Regions from separate parts of the Homo sapiens genome. Here region 1 is linked to region 2. The links come from fine-mapping of genetic effects on gene expression. A gene starts in region 2. The other region holds a variant in brackets. All regions are shown on one strand. Distances are between the middles of the regions. Region 1 has its middle 130 kb from the start of LINC02821. Region 2 holds the start of PRANCR (progenitor renewal associated non-coding RNA).

Region 1 (8,340 bases), 190 kb after region 2:
GAGAGGCCAGGGTCCCTGTCCTGTCCTCGTTCAATGACAGGCTCTGAGAAGAGGTTAGGGATTGCTTTTAAAATTACCCAAATGGGAAAAGGAGGACAAGAGCACTGGGAATAGTGCCATACATCCTTTGAACAGAGGAAGACTTTGTCTTCCAAAGAAGAGTGTTTGGAAACAGCCTTCAAAGTTAGCTCCTCACAATGTGTAGGGATGGTATGAAGGCAGTGGCAGAAGACAGGTGAATTGATGAGTTTTGTGAGTTGGCTTTTTGAGACAGAGTTTGGGTGTAATACCTGTGAAAAAAAGAGGGAGGAAGCAGGACTGGTCAAGGGGCGAAGTTGAACTGTGATGCAATCCAACAAAGCCTCAGCTAACCCGAAGAGAAATTCTGGAGTAAGAATGACTCATCGGTATTGTGTTGCAATCTGCTGAATTGGCAAAGCCTTTCTACCCCACCTTACTCAGTTACCAGATAAGGGTTGCCCTGCCATTGTTCCAGCCACTGTACATCTGAAGCCATGAGGTCAGAGCCCTACATAGATTTGGGGACACCCATCTTGACGCATAAACCCTGCCTATACTACTCCCCAACCCTAGACATCATCTTGGAGAGAAGCAAAAAAAGAGCACTGAAACATTTAGCATTTACGTGAGTTACTGTCCAGAGATTGAACTCCCTAAATAGACTTTAAATGATTGGACCAGACCAAGGTTCCACACTTAGCCTAAAACTTGGTTTTTAGTTTTCTGTTATCCAGCAGGCTAAGGAAATATCAGGGAGAGAACATCAATTAAGAGGTACTCAAGGAAACTACATCTGCTTTGCACATTTGTATAGAGTACGAGGGACATTTTGCACTTGCTACATTACCAAAGAGAAACACATACCAAAAGTTAATTTAACAAGAATTCCAGACTCAGAGGACAAAAATGAGATTGAAGGAGGGCTCAATATTCTGTTTCCTGAGAATATTCATTAAGCAATTGCTAGGTTTTGTTGCTGAACAGTGTAATTTTTCATTCTAGTTAATTTCCTTTGAGAAGTTCTGAAATACTAGGACCTTACTTGTTCTCACTGGCCATAGAATTACATGTTAAGCAAAGCCCAAGATTTAGTAACGTACAAATCATTCTGGCTTCCCGCTACTGTGAGAAACTACACTCAGCAAAAAAATAAAATAAAAATAAAAAATGGTTATAGTTTATCTAGTTCCCTGTGAATAATACAAACACCAAAGTCTCTGGCAGTCAGAGATAGAAGAAAATTAAATTCACGTAAAACTCTTCATCAGCTTAGTTTGGCTAGATATGAAATTCTGGGTTGAAAATTCTTTTCTTTAAGAATGTTGAATATTGGCCCCCACTCTCTTCTGGCTTGGAGAGTTTCTGCCGAGAGATTAGCTGTTAGTCTGATGGGCTTCCCTTTGTGGGTAACCCGACCTTTCTCTCTGGCTGCCCTTAACATTTTCTCCTTCATTTCAACTTCGGTGAATCTGACAATTATGTATCTTGGAGTTGCTCTTCTCGAGGAGTATCTTTGTGGCGTTCTCTGTGCTTCCTGAATTTGAATGTTGGCCTTCCTTTCTAGGTTGGGGAAGTTCTCCTGGATAATATCCTGCAGAGTGTTTTCCAACTTGGTTCCATTCTCCCCAGTTGGTACACATCTGGTGTACATCTGGTACACCAATCAGATGTAGATTTGGTCTTTTCACATAGTCCCATATTTCTTGGAGGCTTTGTTAGTTTCTTTTTATTCTTTTTTCTCTAAACTTCTCTTCTCGCTTCATTTCATTCATTTGATCTTCAATCACTGATACCCTTTCTTCCAGCTGATCGAATCAGCTACTGAAACTTGTAGGGACATGGATGAAGCCGGAAACCATCATTCTCAGCAAACTATCACAAGGACAAAAAACCAAACACCGCATGTTCTCACTCATAGGTGGGAATTGAACAATGAGAGCACTTGGGCACAGGAAGGGGAACATCACACACCGGGGCCTGTTGTGGGGTGGGGGGAGGGGGGAGGGATAGCATTAGGAGATATACCTAATGTAAATGATGAATTAATGGGTGCAGCACACCAACATGGCACATGTATACATATGTAACAAACCTGCACCTTGTGCACATGTACCCTAGAACTTAAAGTATAATAAAAAATATATATATAAAAAATAATAAAAAACTCTTCATCAGCAAGTAAAAACCAAAAGCAACACAATTGTAACTGTGAGATCAAAGAATAGTGAGATGTGAGAGGCAGGCCATCTACTGTCAGCAGCCCCAGACTCCCCTCAGAATCGACGGACAGAACTTCAGATGAGAGAATCCTGAACTGCCCTGGGCTTTGCCAGCCCTTTGAGAGGGAAGTGACAGATGACAAAGTCAAAGCCTGGGAGAACTGAGAACCTAATTCAGTTTAAACTTACCCAGGCCCTTCTCTCTATTTAAAAGGATCGTGTTCACCATGGCCACAAAAGTCTAACTCTGGAATAAGTTGTAGCTCCATTTCTGAAACAAATTTTTTTGACAATAGAATGGAACTTAGAGGATTCATTATGCAATATTATCATATGTGCTCACAGGTATGCCAACATACGTTTCCAAGCTGCTTAAATTGTCTGCCAATGAGCCCCCCTTTTTCATCCCCCAGGGCTTCATCAAGTTGCACATATGATTGATTTTATAATAATAATAATAACATTTAATGAGCATTTGTTACATGTCAGGCACTGTACTAAGTGATCTTCAGTCTTCTTTTAATCCCTTCTTTCATGAAACAAGCATCATTATTATGTTATCTTGAAGAATGTGAGGGTCAGAGAGCTTAAGCAAATTTCCCAAAGTCACACATTTAGGATATAACTGAGTGAAAACTCAGAAAGGATTCCCAAGTGAGGAAAAACTCCCAAAGATGGCAAAACTGGCCTAATTTTGTTTATAGAATTATGTGGTATTGCCTTAGCTTGGGTTACCCAGAAAACAGAGCCTGAGACAATGAGCTTATGGTATAATACTTCTACTCTATTAGGAGATGCATTTCCAGGTATGAGAAAACAACGGGAGAGAAGGAGGAAAGGGGAAGCCAATATGAGACCACATGATCAAGTGTGAAGCTACTGAGACTTACTGAAAAAAATCACAGGATCGTCCAGCAAGAAGTCACATAAACTGCATCTCAAAAAAGTCCATCTAGAGGGAGAAAAGGGGAAGAACTTATGTACCAGCTGACTTTTTAAAATCAAAAGTTTACCTCATGGGATACTAACTCCCTGCCCTTCAGGGTTTCACATGTGTAGGCCATAAGCAGCATCTGTGGCTTCCATATCTTAGCACTAACACCTCCCTAGGGTGGGAGGTGAGAGGCGTATGGTGCAGCTTGGGGTGAGATATACGTATGTAAAGCCACTGGGAGCCAATATAGAACTGATGGTGTTAGTGGTATCGAAACAGGAAATGGGTGAGGCTGAGGCCTCAGAGGTGTCAGACATGAGTCCTTCTTTTCTGCAGGACAGAAAGGAGCCACACAGTTCTAGCATGTTACAAGTAGTTGGGATGCCTATTAAAGGCTAAGATGCAGCAGCTTAGCTTGCAGTCCTACATAGGCACTGAAGTAAGTTCTCATGCCCTAGTCCAGAAAGCAGAGTCTTCAGGCACTTTGGACAAGCAGCAATTACAAAGCACAAAAAGGGGAGAAATATGAAAATGTTCACTTAGTCATTCATTCTTCCAAGAAAGTCAACCAGCAGGTTCAACCAGTTCTTAGAGGTTCCCAGGAAATACACCTTCTTTCCTGGAGCAGGAGTTGTAACCTCCTCCGGTGTGGTTTCATCTGGGTAAAGATCATTGAACTGCATACAAT[G/A]GCACAGAGTGCCATTGCATAGAGTCTGATAGAGCATCTTGCTCCTATGCAATGGCATCAGAAAGCAAAATCCCCTTTGTTTTGCATTCACGAAATAGTTTAGAATTAAAATACAGTTAAAATTAAAATTCAGGGCTTCAGTTAAAATTAGTAATAAAAGCCCTTGGTGGGTACTCACCATAGGCCTGCAAATAATCCCTGTCATTCTAAAGAAAGTGGACTCTGATAAGGAAGGTACTTCTGATTGCTAGAGCCTAGGCCATCTGACTATATCCTAGCTGCAAAGGCAGCTGGAAAATTAGCTGTCATTTTCAACTAATATAGTGGGTGTCAATCTCTGCCTCATAAAGTCGAAAAATTACCCAAACATAGGAAGAGGGTTCAGATTCTAGGTGGTCAAAAAGAATGTCAGATGTCCATTTTTGACCCCACATCCTTTCGTGCTAACTAGTTTATTGCCTGATACCAATGTTTTTCTTGTAGTGAGGCCCCTGATATCTACTGCTAGATTTCCTTGACAGCAAGGTCAAAAGAACAGTCATGCCAGATATAACCTCGGAGGTCTACCCAACACACCTTGCCTGGCCTTTCTTGGTTTGTTTTGTTCAACAGTTGCCCAAGCCCAGAATCTGGTACTCTGCATGACAAATCAGCAAATAAACCTGCCACCTGGAATCTGAGCTTTGGAACTACTACTATAAACAGCCATATACACATCATAACCCAAAGCCCCATAGAGTGTAATGCTGACTTTATTATAATGTGGGACACATGGATTATACCCCTTGCTCTCACATTAAACTGCTGTATGGCTTTGTGGAAGTGACTTAGCCACTTTGTATTTGGTTTCCTATTTTGTAAAAAAAAAAAAATTTTTTTTAAAGAAAGAAGAAAAAAGCCATTGCATTCAGCACAGGGGAAAGAAACCACTAATGCACAGAATGCTAATAATGTACAAGGAGGTTTACTTTCAGTTGTTGCAGCAAACCTGCAAGACAGGTGCTCTATCCTCATCTTGCTGATGAAGGAACTGAGACAGAGGGGTCATGTTTTCCCAAAAGTCATAGAGTTAACAAGCTGCTGAGGCCAGGGTTTGAGCCAGTTTCAGCCAGCCTCAAAGCCCTTGCTCTTTCCATGTTTCTTTTTTGAAAACAAATGTTGAATTACACAAACAGCAAGAGTATATTATCTGTAAAAAATTTAAATGTTTCTGAAAGGCTAATGTCTCCTTGGAATACTACCCCCTTGCCCCAACAAACTTTCTCAAGTGACAATAAATAGCCACTTATAATTTTAGTGTATATACTTCAAGTTTTTCTATGTGTTTATATACATGTAACCTAGAAAGCATATATAAGCACATATAGAAGTAATATAATGTTACTTATACAAGTGTGTATATTTTTGTATGAAAATAATGTCATTTTGAAGATATCTTTATGCAGCCTGCTTTTCATTTGACAATAGGTTTTGGAGCTCTAGCTATGTCAGTACACAGCGAGCAATCTCATTCCTTTTAGCTGGTGCATAGTATTTCGTAGCATAGAAATATAAGTTTATTTAACTATTTCCCTCCTGATGGATACTCAATTTGTTTGCTCTTAGCACATATTTCTATTCCAACATTGTGCTTTTTCTCCAGCTTCCAGAGATTAGTTCTGTAACCTCTTTTAGCTCAAAAATTCTATGGCATGAAGGAAATGAAGCATGATTAAGTCTGAAGACATAATAATTCACTCTAGATAACTCATTTATTAAGCAGTGATATAGCACCAAATTGTGAAATATACACCACCATTAAAAACACAGTGCCAAATAAACAAAACAAAAAGATCCAAACAGGTTCAGGCAGACAAATGTCTCTCTGGTAACAAGATTCTAGTTTGTGTTCACTTAAGTATGTGACTCAAAGCTCTGTGTGGATATTCTTGATTACAGCAATTTGTTTTATAATAGTTGAGATTTAACATGGCATCATGCAATGTGCTGATGCTACATGTATTATTTAACCCTAATGATAATCCTTTAGAGCACATTATTACCTTTTGTATTGCTAAAGCAACTAGGGCTTAGAGAGGCCAAGAAATTTTGACCGAGATTACAAACTAGTGGCAAGACCAAGTTTCAAACTCAAGTTGTCTGACTCCAAAAGTCCCTCTTCTTTCCACTGTCTGTCATCAATCCTTTTAACCTGGGTTAGTGCAGAAGGACCTGATGATAAAGAACAAATTCTCACCTGATGCAAAACCTCTCAACATCTGCTCATTTTTTCAGTTCATTTTTCACTTCCTTCCCTGTCCTGAACCTGGCCCTAAATTACTTATAATTCACCAATAACACATTGCTGTGAACTTTTGCAAGCACTGTTTGCCTTTTCTGGAACATTATTCTATTGTCTGTCTGGGCAATCCAGACTTATCTTTCAGCGCAAGCATCATTTTCTCCAGAAAGCCTTTGCTGTACCATCCCCACCCTCACACCTGCCCAAAATTGGGTTAGGGATCCTCCATATTTTCCCATAGTGCTTTGTGTTACTTTCCCTAAAGCATTAAACATCACAAATTGTAAATATTTGTTACTTTCTTGTTTCCCTATACTACACAATGAGCTCCCTGAGAACAGGAGCCACAGCTTATCCGTAATGCATCTCTAGCCCTAGCATAGCGTCTAACACACAGTAGCCACTTGATAAATGTTTCATGAATAAATGAATCTTAGACTAATGGCAGAAATGAACCTGGAAGTAGACTCTTTAGCTCCATACGTGGTGATTGCTCAAGACAGTCACCTCAGTCGCCCCATTGCCAACCTGTTGCCCTCCAAACTCCTCACTTCCCACGATTGCAGGAGTTGTTCTCTGTATGATAACTTAAGAAGATTGTGGCACATGTGGGAAATTTTGGAGACAAAGTCTCTAAAGACAAAACAGTCACCGTTTATGTGGAGATTTATTTTATCTGTGAAAGATGGGGCATTTCTTTATCCCACATGAAGCAGGTAGGTTAAAATGCTAAGAAAGAAAAGGGAGCTGAATTTTACTGAGAAAAAAATAAACTGATGGTAGGAGAAAAATAATGAAGGTCTCCTATGAAATGACAAGGAAAATTTATCATTCAGTAGATTTAAAGAACAAAAATCAAAAGATCCAAACCAGAATGTGTGAAGCATAAAGAGATTTTGCAGATGATAAATTGCTCTACTGTACACATTTTTCTCTTTTCAGTTACAGATTATTTGATGAAAAGAATTCGTTTATTCCAAGTTTGCCAACATAGTTTTTGTTTTAACAGTTCAAGGAATGTATCAATTTTTCCCTAATGGTCTTTGAAGCCTCAAGATATGGAAATTTGGTATTCTAGGTAATGTCTAAAAAGTGTTCATGGAACTGAAACATTCAACTTGTGTTTACTAAATATTAGGAAGAAAACAACAGCATCAGAAAGAAATTAACATATATTTCAGAATGGGCTGACATCTCTCACTGATTATCCAATTATGGTACTATTATTAAAAATAAAAGATAGTAATAATTATAGTTACTATTTACTTAGTGCTAAGCACTCTTTATAGGCTAGGCACTGTGCTAGATTCTGACAATGCAGTAGAAAGCAAAACAGATATTCCTAGCCCCTGGATAGGTAGACATTAAACAGATAATTAGAAGATATGTATATAATTATAAAGGTTAGCAAGAAGAGAGGGTTTTAAAGAAAGAATAACAGAGGAGATCTATTTTACACAGGTAGTCAAGGAAGGTCTTTTTGAGGAAGTAATATTTAAACTGGGACTTGAAGAATGATAAGAGGTGAATAGTGGTGGGAAAAGAATTATAGAAAGAGGACATGGAATATATGAATATCCTGACATTGGAAAGAGCTTGGCATTTTCAAGGAACTGAAAGGAAGGCCTACTTATCAGATGTTTTCCTTTTGGCCCGCAGATCCTGTCCTGCCCGTCCCTGCTCCTGGTAGGCTGGTGTGATTGGGGCCTGACTCAACCTGCAGGAGTGAGGTGGCTTTGCTATGTTTGGCCAATAGAAAGGACTGGTAGGAGATCAGAAGGTGGGTAAAAGGAGGAAGCTAGAAGATTCCTCCCAGTTTTCATTCTGGGTAAGGAGCGCCTCTCCAGCAGTGGTGCTCTCTCCTCTGCGGCTTTAGAGATTTTTGGCTTTGGAGAGAACATAGTGCTAACCCCCTTCTTTATTTTGATCTTAGGATAATTGGCTGGGACAAGATCCTTATTGTTTAATGACACCTCTGTGTATCACAGGGGTGTGATTGTGGTTACAATTCACCTGGTCTATTCTTTTCTAAAGGATCATAAATTGATAAGAAACAGAGAAGCTAACAAAACACTCACACATAAAAGCCCCATCCTTTTATTTTCTCCCTAACAGAGAAACATTTTAAAAAAAACTCTCTGACCCATTTCTGGAACAGCTTGCAAAACGATCAAAGTTTTGGTCAGGGCAGCCAAGG
Region 2 (8,340 bases):
CGTCTGAGGTCAGGAGTTTGAGACATGCCTGACCAACATGGTGAAACCCTGTCTCTACTGAAAATACAAAATTAGCTGGGTGCATGCCTGTAATCCCAGCTACTCAGGAGGCTGAGGCAGGAGAACCGCTTGAACCCGGGAGGCGGAGGTGGTAGCGAGCCAAGATCACGCCATTGCACTCCAGCCTCAGCGACGAGCAAAACTTCGTCTCAAAGAAAAAAAAAAAAGAATAAGGAAAAGAAAATGTGCAGGGTTAAGTGGCAAATAGTCCAAAATATCTAACTATATATCTAAGTGGACTTAGATCCTGAGTCTACGCATATACAAAACCCTGAAGTGCCCAGAAAAGGAAAAATTTCCCATTTTTTCCTAAATAATTCACTTTTTTGTATTTCCATATTATATGTCATAAGCTCTTGACAAAAAGCAAACATTGTAAACTGTTTTATTACTTTATAATGCAGCACACCCCCAAGGGATATACCAACAGATACCAACAGATTTGCATCTGTATTTCAGAGAACAAGCTCTCAGAAAACACAGTACAAATTCTATTTCCAGGACATTCCTAATAGTATAGACAAAGAAAATAAATGAACAAACCACATCAGCATGATTAGTCATAAGAGTTGAATTCTAAAATAGAAATCAAAGGATGTCAAACAGAAAAACCAAAGAAATAAAAACCTAACTTTCATTCCACTTCAAGGCAAACTTTCTACAATGACATCAACTTTAGCACAGCTCTTTTCAAAATATCTGATATAAGTCACAGTGAAATTCAATCCCTTTAAGTATCACAGGTAGAAACTGCTCTTAGTAAGGAAGAACAGTCACCTGTATCATCAAGCAGAATAAGTTCTACCATAGCACTAGATCTCTTGATTAACACTGTATGTAATTCCACTCAAACATTACAGTACACCTCATATTAACTCTGCCCCTAAACTGCCCTACCTGGTACCCTGGATATTCTGCCTCTTTGTGTTACAAAATCCACTACAGATCCAGGTAACAAATAACATCATAAATGTTTGGTGGTATATTTTCCTGAAATCTCAGGAAAATAACCTGTCCTCAAATGCCTATTCAAGCAAGCACATGGCATTGTTAGTTTGCCTTCAAATATGTGATCCCAACAGAATGAACTTTCTACAGTTACAAATTTTAACAACAAAAAAAAGCTATTATTTACCACTGCTTTTAAAGAGCAAGAAAATAAATTGTAAGCTAAGTTCTTTTCATTGGTCTATTAATGCTTACTCATTATTTCATATATACATGTGAAGCATACATTTTATTCATATTATCAGAAAATCTTATGAAGTAAGTCTGTCACTAGAAAAGATAAAACTATAACTTATACAGGTTGTAAAAAATTCTGTAATGGTCTTTCAAAATACAGGTACTTTTAACACCAGTATCTACTAAAGGAATACAAATGAGAACTGGGTTAGAATCACTTCTAATAAAATCTATTCATACACCTGAAAATTTTATTTACTTTTGAACAAATAATTTTCAGATTACAATAACTGTAAAGCATCTCTGAAAAATCAAAAAGTGCAACATCCAAAGTTATAAAGCAAAAACAAAGGTAATTAGTTCTTGTAGGGAGGTATATGGGAAGTTGTATCATTCTGAATTTTTTTGTTTTTGTTTTTTGCCCAGCATCAGAAGATAAGCCACAATCTGAGTTTTATCTTCAAGAGCAGGTACTTGGGGATATAAATCACTCATACACAAGCATTTTGCCCTCATTTTTCCACCATGTAAATTAAAGTATTATAGAAATTGAAAAATTGTATAGGCTGTATTTGTTGCTTGGTTAAACAGGCAATTCTCATTCCCTGAGATCAGATTAGGTTACAGATATCTCTACATTGTATACTTAGAAAAAGATTCCTGCCAACAAATGTTTACATTAACTTATTTGTATTGATAAAGCACTAATCAAGATGCAAAAAAAACTTCAGCAGTTTCTCACTTCCTCTCTAAAATACAAAGTATTCACAAAAATTATTACAATTCAAGCTCTCAGAAAATATGAGAGAAAAGTACCTTTTTTACAGTAAGGATCTTACAAAGTCAAGAAATAAGTGAGTAGAGTGGAACATGTTTTGTCTTTAAGTGTATTTTGTATTTTTTTCTTTAGATTTAACATTATAATAGAACTACAAACTAAACAAATTCAACATACAGAGCTTACTAATTATCTTGGTCCATTATAAAACATTTCAATGAACTGGGATGTGAATATAGACACTTAACCATTTCAGCCAACTATGATTCTTAACCCTTTCAATCTGCAATAGTTACCTTACAAAATTGTGAGATTTATTCATTGACGTTTGGAAAGAACTGTTGTCAATTATGCCAAGCATTCCCAAACTCAACATCAACCTTGCATGTAAATGGATACTTTAAAATTTCTATCTCATCCCTCACCCCATACTTTATTCTTTCCATTTATATTGCTTCAAAAGGGAAATCAACAGTCACACTTATGATTCCGAGCTCTAAAAATTCCTAATATTAAGCATGACACTAAATATGTTCAACTTTGAACCTTAAATTCAAGTTGGCCTCCCTCGTGAACTGATTTTAACTGAGTACTTTTTACCATTTCGCCAAGAACTAAGGGTTCAAAGCAGTGTACTTAATTATGAGGAATTGCCCAAACGATTTTAAAAGGAGTGGGATTCTCTGACCAAGACTTTTATGAAAATGAAACAAAATATGTTGCACTCAGTCTTCCGGATGTTGAAAAGTGAAGATGTCTCCAAGGATTCGAAGGAAGTTGATGTTTAGGTTCCCTCTGAGAGGGTGGTACCCTTAATGTAAGACTTTTGTGGTAGTAATACCGTACCTACAGGCCTGGAATAAATATAAGGTCTAAAACCTTGGAAATACTTTGTATAAAAGAAAACTCCAATTCTCTTTTGCTAAGGACCACAGTTACCAAGAGTTATCAGCTTTCACCCGGACAGACAACAGTGCTTCAATGAAGAACTACAAAGGCCTCTTTTAACCCTACTCTTTTCTTCTGTTAAACTTTTAAGCGAGACCTACGACAGCAAAAGGTGGAGAGGCCCCTGCGGAAGTAGAAACCCAGGACTTGCAACTTCACAGACAGAAGCGTCTGTGGTTCCTCCGCCGCCCCAGGATCATCCGGACTCAGTCTACGACACTACGGAAGCTTCACCTTCCTGGTGCGGTGGCAGAGGCGGCATCGCAGTTGCATTCCTTCTCCCTCCACCATGCACAGCCTTCGGTATCCCAGGGCCTGCAGGATCCTGACACCCGTTAGCCAGTCCAGTGTCTCCCATCTGACACTTGCAAACACACTAACAGAAATACACATAACTGGCAGATGATATACGTGTATTGAGAGAAGGTAAGAAGCCACAGACAGCACCAGCTGCCGGGAAGGCGGCAGAGCCGTCTAAAGCGGGCTCGAGCTCGTCGGCCACGGCCACGGCCGCTGCCGCCTTCTCTTCTCCCCCAGGAAGCAGCGCGGCGGCAGCGGCTCCTCCGCGCTGGCGGGAGCCTAGGGGAGTGGAGTCTGGGGAAGCCCCACCACTCGCGGATGGGACCGGGCCTAGGATCTGGAGCTGCTGCTGCTGCAGCGGCCCGAGTACAGCGACGCTTTACGTCCGGTCCACCACCACCCCCATACACACCCCCTCCCTCCCTCCACCGCCGCCACCCCCCTCCCCGCCCGCTCCGCTCTCCGTCTCTCGATTGGAGCCGAGACAAAAGCAACGGGAAGCGGTGGGCCGGGACGCTACCGGCGGACCCTGGGCGCGACCGGACCGGCCCCGGGGCATTCCCCCGCCTTGCGGGGGCCCCGAATCTGCCGCCCCCGCCGCGCGCCCCGCTGCCAGACTTCCGAAAATTTACCAAAAACTCACCGCATGAATTTTCTTGTCCCGCGGATCCAAGATGGCGACGTATCCACCGCGGAGGCTGCTGGGAGCAAGACCTTTACCCTCTGACCGCCGCCGTGACCCCCGTCGCTCCGGCTTCCCTCCAGGCGGCAGCGGAAGGTGGGAGCGACGACTGCAAAACGGCAGCGATGGGGTGGGTAGGCAGGCCGCTTTCAGCGCGCTTCTAACAAGGTGGAGAGAGGCGCTTCACTTCCCTACCGCCCTTACCGCCGCTCCGTCTTGTCTCCCACCGACTCACAGGGAGGCTTGCTGCTCCTCCGCGGCCGTTACAGAGAGCGGGGCTTCTGCGGCCGCTACCGTTTCCCTGGGGCTAGGTTGCTTCGCAGAAGGCTCTGGCCCTGAGTCCGAGGGGGACTGCGGGGTCCAGGGGCGATGAATGGTGAGGTGGCTTCAGTCCGCCCTCCCCGGGGACGCTGAGCGTGTTCGTGTTCGTGTTTGTGTTTGTGTTTGTGTTGGACACCCCCGCCCCCGCACGTCCGCCTCGTCACTCCTCCCCTCCTCACTCCCGCCACCTGGAGCGAATCTGATCGTGTCCCTGTTTCCTCCCTCAGCTCCCGCAACCTCCGGAGCTTGTGCGCGTACTTCAGGGACCGGCACCACGTCACCGTCACCTCCTGAGTAGTGAGTTCCCCTCTGATGAAACCACTGGTGTGTTTACTCACCATCCCCACCATTTTTTTTTCCCCAACCTGATGGAAGGAAGTACATAATGGAGAGCAAGTTTTTAAAGCACGGTCGTGTCGTGTGAACTTGCTCTAGCCAAATTAGGTTTATAGCACTTTTTTTGGCTCTCATTACCTCCAGTCCCCACATAAACAAGAGTGACCAGCTGGGTCATCCGCAAGACCGTTTGAAATTATTGTGGCTTGGGTGGAAACTTAAAGGAGTGAAGTATCTGCTTTCCAGAAAAATCGTTGTCATTCAAAGTGAAATTAAACTTGTTTTCTTTGCAATAATTCGCCTTTATTTCCTTGTATATCTGTAAACTCTTCACTTTTTTGTAATTACTAGACAATTCGGACTTAAAAAGAGCCTCAGCATGTGTATTTTGGAATTGTGTAGCTTCATAATGTGAAAATTATTCTTTTCTATTTGAGTAAAGTACAGTTAATTTGAAGTAAATAAAATTTCTATTTCCATTGGTTGTTTCTTTTAAAAAGTCACCTTTTACTTACAAAAGAATCACTGTAATCCAGTTTACATTTATCATTGAAGGTCAAAAGCAAGAAATAGGAAGAAACACAAGCATACTATAAAATAAAAGGTAACTGTCATGTTTTTGAAGGTAAGGTGTTTTGACATATCAGCAGACATTGTGTGAATTTATTTCAACTCCTAGTGGTACTGGTGTAGGTAGAAAATGTTTTGCTTGGTTATTCATTTCATCAAACACTCTACTTCACTGTTTTTTTTTCACTTCAGGAAAATTCGAGGAGGAACAACACATACTAGTGTCTTTCCTTTCTTTCTCCCCGTCTTCTGCAAATAGTCCCTTCCTCTTCCTGCTTTCTCCTCCTTCTCATGTTAACATCTTCAACCATAAGATGGTGTGTTAAAAGATTGAATATACCTCTATGGAATGACTTCCAGAGGGTGTAAGTCTGATATGAGAGTTTTATTACCTTGAGTATTTTACTGGAAGAGATAGAACAACAAACATTTTCATAATAAATGTGTGGGTTAGGAGTGTTAGGAGAAAATACACTGATACTATTACTTTCAATATTTGATACTACTTACTTTGACTCTCACTGAACACCTATTTGTTTAGGATGAATTCACTTTAAGCCGGGTTGAAGAACAAGCCTTTAATTGTCCTATTATTTGTGCCAAATCTATTATAAATTTGTTAAAAAATTTTTAATACCTACCTTAGAGGGTACTCTAGGTATTTAATGAGCTAGCATTTGTTAAAGGCTTGTATAGTAAGAATTCTTATAGTAAGAGTTCTTACCAATAGATGGTATATTTTTTAAATTGTCCTGTTGCATCAAAAAGTTCATCTTTATTGGTAATGTTGATTAAGTTTGCCCATTTGGTAGTTTGGTTTCTTTTAACTATCTTACTAGATTTTCTTACTTTTACCTGAAAAGTAGTCCTTACTAATAGGCACATGTTTTGTATATTTCCAAAATATGTATTATGTTAAATTCTCTGTACACTTTATTTAAAAATTACAGACGTTGAGGGAAAAAAAATACCCTATTAAGGGAAGAATGAGTTTGTGTATAACTTGTAGAAGAAGGAGGCCACCCATTTTTAGAAAAATATGGATGGTATTGAAAATTTTGCCATGGCAAGGGATAAAAAGGACAGGCTTCTCTAATGTGTCTGAAACAACATTTGAATCCCCTTTGTTCATTCCCTAAATCTGCTGCTCCTTTAGAATTCCTGATTTTCATAAATAGTACCACCATTCACTTATTTGCTCAGGCATAAAACTTGGAATTTTCTGATTCTTCACACTCATACAACTCATCAGACAGTACCATCAGTTCTTCCTGACAAATACATTCTGAATTTAGCTACTTATCACTTCCACTGGTACAACCCTTGGGAGCCACCATCATCTGTTGCTGGACCACAGCAATAACCACACTAGTTGCTATCACTTTCTATCTGTACCCTCATGAATATTTTCCCATTTAAACCATTCTCTATATACCAACCAAAGCAATCACTTAAAAAATGTTATTAGGTTATGTCACTCCCTTGTTTAAAACCCTCCAATAGCTTCCTTATGCACACAGAATGAAATCGGAATTCCTTACCATAGCCTTCAAGACTGCATAATCTGGCTCCTGCCCACTTCTCCATCTTCCCAGGAAGCAGCACAGGAAGTTGTTCTCACCCTTCTTACTGCCTCCTTTCTGTCGTGGGCTGTGCTTTTTCTAGTCTGTAGCAGAGTCTGTTAGTTGTCCCCAAAAATTCCTCCATTTTTTTCATAGTAATAGACATGGATACATGGCTACCCAGAACAAAGACTATATTTTGCAGCCTTCCTTGTAGCCATGTAATAGTGCTGGCTGATGGGATGTAAGCAGTATATCATGTGGCACACTTGTAAAACCATCCTTAAAAGATAGTTGGTGCACACCTTCAATGCGGCTTTTCCTTTATCCTGTACCGTGGAATATAGATGTGATGGCTTAGAACTGTAGCTGCCAATTTGTGCCTCATGCAAGTTCTCTCATTCTAGGGATGGCAAAACTAAACTGGTGGAAACCAGGGTCTGTGAGAACTTTATGGATCAGAGCACCATGCTAGCCCTGCAGTCGTAAATGTCTATATTATTAAAGCCACTATTTTGGAGTCTCTTGTTCTCAACTGAATTTAATCTTACCTGATACTCTGTCTCAGGGCCTTTGCACTTGCTTTTTATTTTTTATTTATTTATTTTTTTTCTGCCTGGGATGTGGTCTTCTGTCTTGGATATGGCTGACTCATTCTCTTCCTTCAGGTTAACCCAAATATCTCTGACAGGCCTTCCCTGGCCACCGTATCTAAAATAGCTCACGTTCCCATTTATTCTCTGTCAATCACGTGCCCCTCTATTTTCTTAATAGCATTTATAATTTATCATTATCTTGTTTATTCACTGTTTATTTTCTACCTCCCTTCACCCTACAAAAATATAAACTACACCTGTTTTTTTCCACTACTTTATCCTTCACACATGGTAGGCATTAGATAAATGCTGTTAAATTAGTGAGTGAATGAATCAACAAAATTCTTATCCAAGATTAGCTAGACTTTTTAAATAATAAATGAGTAAATGTCAACAGATATCCTTAACACAAAATTTGTAAAATCCAATCTAGGAAACAGGAAAAACAGTACTAAACTAATAGGATATTCCTGACCTCCAACTTAATAAAGAAGATGTCTACCTTTTTCTGGGAAATCTGTAAGGCTAGTACAAGTTAAAAAAAAAAAGACTGCACTGCAGTATATCCAGGGCTAAAATTCACACTAAAAGGGGTCTGAATTATAATTTACTAGACCTCAGTTTCTTCATCTTAAATATGTGTAAGCTTTGAATGGTAATACTATAACAGTTAAAAGTTTAATAGTAAGCCCAACTTATGAGTGACAAAACATGTTAAACATTAATTTAGTCTTCAGGCACTATTTTAACAAGTGGTTATTTCTTGATAATACTGGCAAGGATTCAGAGAAACAGGGCTGCTTATATTGCTGAGAGTGTATGTTGGCAGCACTTTTCTAGAGTGCAGTTTGGCAATATGTATCAAAAGCCTTGAGCCATGTGCATTTGACCCAGCGATTCTTTTAGAAATGTGTCATAAGCAGGCTGGGTGCAGTGGCTCATGCCTGTAATCCCAGCACTTTGGGAGGCCAAGGCGGGTGGATCACCTGAGGCCAGGAGTTT

The links.
Region 1: its variant is fine-mapped to the expression of PRANCR in testis (GTEx, PIP above 0.99).

Annotation. Positions count from the first base shown.
Region 1 is chr12:70,045,227-70,053,566 of GRCh38, reverse strand. No RefSeq gene overlaps it. Among named protein-coding and RNA genes, the nearest start is that of LINC02821, 130 kb to the left of the region's middle. The variant G/A (reference allele first, on the strand shown) is at 3,863.
Region 2 is chr12:70,239,055-70,247,394 of GRCh38, reverse strand. It overlaps PRANCR (progenitor renewal associated non-coding RNA), which reads left to right and starts at 4,035. Exons shown (of 5, transcript NR_120460.1): 1 at 4,035-4,083; 2 at 4,502-4,571; 3 at 5,166-5,214. CNOT2 (CCR4-NOT transcription complex subunit 2) reads right to left here and starts at 3,962. Exons shown (of 16, transcript NM_014515.7): 1 at 3,915-3,962. RefSeq lists enhancers at 3,233-3,372, 4,103-4,302, 3,477-4,676 and silencers at 3,673-3,932, 4,004-4,543.